Homo sapiens: one gene and its partner. The protein of the gene in region 2 interacts with the protein of the main gene of each other region in a biochemical or structural test. Each region holds a gene or a part of one and is shown on either strand. Other genes may lie near its edges.

The links. The genes of interacting proteins can lie anywhere in the genome.
Region 1: the proteins of CRP (region 2) and CFHR3 form a complex in vitro, tested with the Homo sapiens proteins (2 studies listed by IntAct, with this or other methods).

The regions. Positions count from the first base shown.
Region 1 is NC_000001.11:196,777,840-196,781,339, reverse strand, and holds part of CFHR3 (complement factor H-related protein 3 isoform 1 precursor), read right to left. Parts: intron 2,179-3,500; coding exon 1,984-2,178; intron 1,544-1,983; coding exon 1,367-1,543; intron 1-1,366. UniProt on the Homo sapiens protein: Might be involved in complement regulation.
Region 2 is NC_000001.11:159,711,790-159,716,038, forward strand, and holds CRP (C-reactive protein isoform 1 precursor), read right to left. Parts: upstream 2,801-4,249; 5' UTR 2,697-2,800; coding exon 2,636-2,696; intron 2,350-2,635; coding exon 1,736-2,349; 3' UTR 500-1,735; downstream 1-499. UniProt on the Homo sapiens protein: Displays several functions associated with host defense: it promotes agglutination, bacterial capsular swelling, phagocytosis and complement fixation through its calcium-dependent binding to phosphorylcholine.

The DNA.
Region 1 (3,500 bases), about 37 Mb from region 2:
TTTGACCCAGCCATCCCATTAATGGGTATATACCCAAAGGACTATAAATCATGCTGCTATAAAGACACATGCACACGTATGCTTATTGCGGCATTATTCACAATAGCAAAGACTTGGAACCAACCCAAATGTCCAACAATGATAGACTGGATTAAGAAAATGTGGCACATATACACCATGGAATTCTATGCAGCCATAAAAAATGATGAGTTCATGTTCTTTGTAGGGACATGGATGAAACTGGAAATCACCATTCTCAGTAAACTATCACAAGGACAAAACACCAAACACCACGTGTTCTCACTCATAGGTGGGAACTGAACAACGAGAACACATGGACACAGGAAGGGGAACATCACACTCTGGGGACTGTTGTGGGGTGGGGGGAGGGGGGAGGGATAGTATTAGGAGATATACCTAATGCTAAATGATGAGTTAATGGGTGCAGCACACCAGCATGGCACATGTATACATATGTAACTAACCTGCACATTGTGCACATGTACCCTAAAACTTAAAATATAATAATAATAAAATATAAAAAAAGAACCAAAAAACATTCATCATGAAAAAAGATTGACAATTATTTAGTAAAATGAGCAACTTGTTCATAATGCAGAAAAAAGGAAAGAACAATACTAGCCACAAAGAGAATGCATTTGCATTACATATAATTAAAAGAGATTTTACCTTCAGAATTATTAAGATGATTCCAACTAATAACAACCAAAACTCCCAAAAAGATAAATAAAAGAAATCAAACTGCATTTCCAAATTTTAGAATCATTAAATACCAATTAAACTGTGAACATGTATTCTAAATCCAGCTGGTAGTAAAAGAAATGCAAATTTACATTACAATGCTATACCATTTTATAGCCACTCAACTTGTAAATATTAAAATGTGACATCACCAATCATTAGCAACATGTGAAAAAAGAAGGAACTGTTTATATAAATGTATATTTGAATAAATACTGTAGGAAACCTTCTAGAGTAGAATATGTACAAGATCCCAGAATACCCATTTGTACTTAATCTTCTTGGTGCAAGATGACGAACCTCGGGTATTTACCCGAGACATTAATGCCGCTTCAATATGACTTTATTTAGCCAACAAGTATTGTGTTCTAATTCTTTTACTGTATTCTTGACTAATGCCCATTAATAGGAGCATTTATTTTGCTATGTACTTATCAAGAAATTTGTATATTCACACAATTAAAAAAGTAAAACTAAATAGGTCCGTTGGCAAAACAAGTTGACAAAAACATTTTGCCACAGTTAATATAGACAAGTCTGAGACTGTCGTCCGTGTTACTTAGAAAGACATGAACATGCTGGGATCTCAGAGCGGTGTACTTACTGACACGGATGCATCTGGGAGTAGGAGACCAGCCTTTCTCCGTACATGTAACTGTGGTCTGCGCTTTTGGAAGACCGTAGCCAGGATGGCAGGCAACTTCTGTAGAGTTACCCTGTACAAACTTTCTTCCATAATTTTGATTATATCCATTTTCCAAATAAGGAAAATAACATTTTCCTAAGGACATAGCAATGATAAATAAATAAAGTAAATGAGAAACATAAATTTGCACAAAAAGTATATTAAAATTATTGTTACCATATTTAAATAAGATCGCATAAACATCCAAAAATAATGTACAACTTAGTATGAACCAAAATTACTAACAAAGGTTGTACAAGAGGAAATGTCAATATTTAATATTACTTCTCTTTAGTTTTCATAATTAAAATATGTATAAACTATATAGATATTCTCATAAAGTCTCTATATTTATTTTTCATATGATTTTCAAGAACTCCTCATAATAGAAAAGATCTATTTTGGTCATTTTGCTTGAACAACTCATTTCTTGGCCCTATTTCTGTTACATAAGACAAGAGTAATCAATTATGTGCTCTCCTCTCTTTAATCTTTTAAAGTTTTATACATGTGTAGCAGTTCAGAGGATTACTTACTGAGACATGGTACTGCTGGTGACCACCCATTTTGTGTGCAATGAATGTAATCCCAGTAACTTCCTGAAGGAGTCTCAAAATGTTCATCACAGTAATAGGAGTAATATTTTCCTACAGCTACTGGAAAGTATGGTCTACGCATATTCTCATGAAATAGACCTCCATGTTTAATGTCTGGAAAATCACAAGGTTTCACTTGCAATAAAAAACAAACAAAAAAGTATAAATAATTTTTACTGTAATAAATCATATTAGAGATAAATTTTGATATCACCTTCTCTCAAACATTTTCTTGTGGAATTACAGCAACCATAACTAGTTTCCTGATCCTGACCTCTCATCTGTATAATCTGTTTTCCTGGGTATAAATTAATAACCCTTCATCTGGTCATTTTATTTCTACACTTAAAATCCTTAATGGATCCCAAATCAGCTAACAGGACAAGAAGAACCTCATTCTACTTTCTCTACTTCTACTAATGTAGTATGGTCTCTTTAGCAATTCTGGAGGTTTTATCAACATTAATTTGAACTGAGCTTATCTAGAACTATACCAAGTTATGCTAAAGCTGTCAGTTCAGGGTGCACACATTACCAATAATTGTTTTTTGGAAAAGAGAAACAAGAAATATGACTCTAAACATTAAAAAAAATCAGAAATGTACCAATTATCTCCAGAAATAAAACATTTTCTTGAGTTTTGTGGCATTTTGTTTGTATTCGATGGCATGCATTCTTACCATAGTTAGAATTCATGTATCGGATGAGATATATTATTGACATAAAAAAATAGGTGCATACACGAATGTTCAAATATATATATATTCTTACATTCTATATGTATGTAGACATATAGAATGTTGACCAATACCATAATTTAAATAGCATATAATTTATGTTTCTTCTATAATTCTGGAACAAGTGATAGAAAATAATATTTACAGCCTATTTATTGGGAAAACTTAAGAATATCACTAAGGAAAAATCTTTAAGTTTGAATCATCATAAATCAGAGAGAACGGGAAGGAGGCTAGCGGCACAACAGCTTTAGTGTGCAGATGAGAAGACTAAGTTCAGAGAAGTGACATCTTTACTTTGTGGGAAGTGTTTGCTAGTTACAGAACTGGCTCCAGAGGCTTGTTGGGTGACGCATGACAGCTTCTCTGACCCAGTCCCTCAAGCATGGATGCACAGTTTTCTGCTGAGTGTCTCCTCCATATTGGAAAATCTAAATCTCCCTGCACTGTGTAACCTCCTGAGATACTCTTACATTTTCTTATGATTGCAGGCTATTTAGTCTGAAGAAGAAAGGGACATATATTAAAGGAAATCATTTTAATTTTTCTTTCTTTTCTTTTTTTTTTTTTTTTTTTTAACAGTCTTGTTCTGTCACCAAGGCTAGAGTACAGTGGCACCATCTCGGCTCACTGCAACCTCTGCCTCCCAGGTTCAAGTTATTCTCCTGCCTCAGTCTCCTGAGTAGCTGGGATTGCAGGTGTGTGCCGCCACTCCGGCTA
Region 2 (4,249 bases):
CCTAGGTAACCATTTGATATGCAGGAAGCCCCATAATTCATTCCTGGCTATGGTCTTTATGGAGTAACTTCTACTGGTCACTTAGTACTGAAAGACAGTGTTGAAGGACACTTCTGGAGGAAGCCAGCTGCTGTCATCTTTGAGGGGTCTGTTTCTACAAAGAACTTGAACCCGCTGGGGCAAGTGCATTCCAGTCACTGAACCTGGCAGCAGATCCATGGATCTCAATGATCTTTAGTTTTTGCTCCTCAAATTGGAATAATGATAGAATGAGAGTACTAAAACCCCCACAACTGGCCCTACATGAATGGCCAGCTATCTCAAAAGAGGGACTGTGCTTGTCAGAGGGAATCCCTTCAGGGGACTCTTGGACAGGTTAAAGTGCCATGGATATGTTGTGTAATGGGAAGTGTAAACTTACAGGGACTTGATTTCAAAGGTCATTAGAGAAGTTAGTCACAACTTCTAAAGCAACTATCAGAAAACAGCTTGGACTCACTCAAGTAAACAGGGGCTTTATTGGCTTATAGACCTGGGCAGTCCAGGTGTAGATCTGGTTCCAGACAAGGCTGATTCAGAGACTCCACGTGGTCAAGGCTCTGTTGTTTGTCAATCCCTTGGCTCCTCCACTTCCAGTTTGGCTTCTGTCCTCACAGTCTCTCTCCATGTGGCAAACAAGATGGCTACTGGTGGTCCCAGGTTCACGTCCTCTCAGCTTGGAAATCCAGCAGCAAGAAGATGTCTCACTCCCAAAGTCCATAACTCAATCCTTGGGAAGACTGTAGTTGGTCCTGCTAGGAACACGTAACTATCCAACTATCCTCCAGATAGGGAGCTGGGGAGATGGGAGATGGGCTCCTCTGACAGGACACCCTGTGGTTCACGTCCACTCTTGTGGCCTGGGTATATTGGGAATGCGGGGATGAAGAAAGAATTCACAGCCCCACAAGGTTCGTGTGGAAAAGGGGAGGAGTTTCCCAGAAGAGCCATAAAATTAAGAAAGCACTGCAAGCAAACAAAAACCAGTCATTTAAGTTCTTGGCAGTAACAACATATTTATACCTAGTGCTTCATTTTGCTCTGGAAAAAAAGCAGATCTGCTCTGCTGGGGCAATTCTAATGGCCTTTCCAGTGTGCTTTGAGAAAGTGGAGGGACTGCGTGGTATTGCTGGGCTTCCCATTTCAGGAGACCTGGGCCCAGCAGTTCTATGACATGATGATGAGCACTCTGGACCCAAACCAGACACCTGGCCAGTGTCCTGATTCTGAGACTGAAGAGCCCTGTGAATGTGGGCAATGCCCTCCTGCTTTCTGGGGGTCATGGGTGGGGAATTAAATAGAAGATCAGCGCTTCCTTCTCAGCTCTTGCCTTATGAGTTTTTTATAACATCATTTCTCCTTTCTGGGTGTTAGTTTTCTCATCTATGTGAGGTAAGAAATTATCTCCAAGATCTGTCCAACTTGAAATAAAAATGAAAACAAAACACCTCAAATTCTGATTCTTTTGGACCGTTTCCCAGCATAGTTAACGAGCTCCCAGACCAGACACTTTACCTCCATTCTCAGGCGCTGAGGAGGGTGGAGCAGGCCTGCAATGCATATAGGGGAACAAAGGCCCAGAGACAGAGACGTGGGAACCATGCAGTGTAAAAAAGCGGGAGGTACCAGAGACAGAGACGTGGGGCCCATGCGGTGTAAAAAACCGGGAGGTACCTTCAGGACCCACAGCTGGGCCTCAGGGCCACAGCTGGGGTTTGGTGAACACTTCGCCTTGCACTTCATACTTCAGTGCCCGCCAGTTCAGGACATTAGGACTGAAGGGCCCGCCAAGATAGATGGTGTTAATCTCATCTGGTGACAGCACAAAGTCCCACATGTTCACATTTCCAATGTCTCCCACCAGGGACTGGCTTCCTTCAAAGTTCCCACCGAAGGAATCCTGCTCCTGCCCCAAGATGATGCTTGCTTCTGCCCCCACAGTGTATCCCTTCTTCAGACTCTTCCTCACCCTGGGCTTCCCATCTACCCAGAACTCCACGATCCCTGAGGCGGACTCCCAGCTTGTACAAATGTGTACTGGAGCTACTGTGACTTCAGGAACCTCGAATAATATTTCAGACCCACCCACTGTAAAACTGTATCCTATATCCTTAGACCAAAATATGAGAATCTCATTGTCTTGTCTCTTGGTGGCATACGAGAAAATACTGTACCCACGGGTCGAGGACAGTTCCGTGTAGAAGTGGAGGCACACAGTGAAGGCTTTGAGAGGCTTCGTTAACGGTGCTTTGAGGGATACATAGGAAGTATCCGACTCTTTGGGAAACACAAAAGCCTTCCTCGACATGTCTGTGAGCCAGAAAAACAAGCAAATGTGAGAGGTTTCTCAGATCACACAGATCTATCCCCTCACTTACGTATAGAATTTAAGATTGAGAAACAGACTGACCCCTTCTCCAGTTACACACCACACACACACACACACACACACACACACACACACACACCATGAAGGATGCTCCACTGTTCTGTTCATACAGTCTTTTTTTTTTTTTTTTGAGACTGTTCATGCAGTCTTAGACCCCACCCCCATACCTCAGATCAAATCTCTCCCATAGCCTGGGGTGGCCCTTACCTGTCTGGCCAAAAGCATGAGAGAGGCTGGTCAAGACCAAGAAACACAACAGCTTCTCCATGGTCACGTCCTGCTGCCAGTGATACAAGGGCCTGAATTCACTCCTTTGGAAAAGATGTATTCGGCTGAAAGTTCAGGGGCTAGAAGTCCTAGATCTCTTGCCTTAGAGCTACCTCCTCCTGCCTGGATTTATATCCAAAGCAGTAAGGGAGTTTGCGCCACTATGTAAATAATTTTCCAACATTGCTTGTTGGGGCAGGTGTCAGAGCTTCGGGAAGAGGGGAAGCAAAATTATTTCAGAACAGAGAAATCAATGTGAGTTATTTATTACAAACTCCTATGACTACTGAATTACCAATTCTTTATGACAGGAAAAATGAAGAAATCTCTCAGGGCTCCACTTTGGCTATCTATCCTGCGAAAATAATGGGAAATGGTAACATATTAAACGAGTGGCCATCTGGGTGCACGTGGTAGCTGCCTCTCCAACACCTACTTCAGCCCAAATCATAGAGTTTGACAAAGGAAATCTGACAGCTTCTGGAGATGGACATTATCACTAACCCCTTTCAATTTGCTTATTTACAGACTGGGAAATGAGGAAAACAAACATGCTCCTCCCAGAGCCATGGACACATTTTTTTATTATTATTATACTTTAAGTTTTAGGGTACATGTGCACAATGTGCAGGTTAGTTACATATGTATACATGTGCCATGCTGGTGTGCTGCACCCATTAACTCATCATTTAGCATTAGGTATATCTTCTAATGCTATCCCTCCCCCCTCCCCCCACCCCACAACAGTCCCCAGAGTGTGATGTTCCCCTTCCTGTGTCCAAGTATTCTCATTGTTCAATTCCCATCTATGAGTGAGAACACGCGGTGTTTGGTTTTTTGCATGGACACATTTTCTCAGCCAATTGAGTACACTTATTAAGAACTCTCTAGACATCTTGGCACTAAATGACGGCCCTGACAGTAAAAGTCCAGTAAAATGTGTGCCTGATCACAGACATAGCATTATATCAAAGTTTCTTCCAACATTTTTCTCTGAATATGTAAAGCTTCAGGCAGGAGTCAGGATAATCTGATTCTACTCTTTCCTCTATTCACAAGATTCAAGTAATCCCTCCACACTGTCTGTCAATCTTACTACAGTTCCCTACTTAACTCACTCTTCAAAATGACTATTATACTCCTTCTCCTTGCTCCTCAAGTCCCCAAAATCTCATTTATTCTTTCATTCAGCTGATGAACTCACCTTTCATTGAGAAGTTAGAAGCAATCAGAAAAGAACCACCGTATCCTTTGTAGTAGAGTCTTCTAGCCATTCCCTAACATCCATTCTCTACTTCTCATAAGAGAAGAATAACATTTTCAGTTGGGCGCTTGGTCATCCCCTCAAACACCAAATTTCCCAGCCCCCACTGTAGCTTGCAGTGATGATGTGATTAAATTAAGGCCAACGAGATATGAACAGAATAGGGACCATCTCTAGGTTGTGCTCTTTAAGAAAGGTATGTGCTTTCCCCTCCCACTTCCCCCTTTTTCCCTTTGACTAGTATTCAGTCATGATAGCAGGAGATGGAATAGTTCACTTTCAGGCCAGCA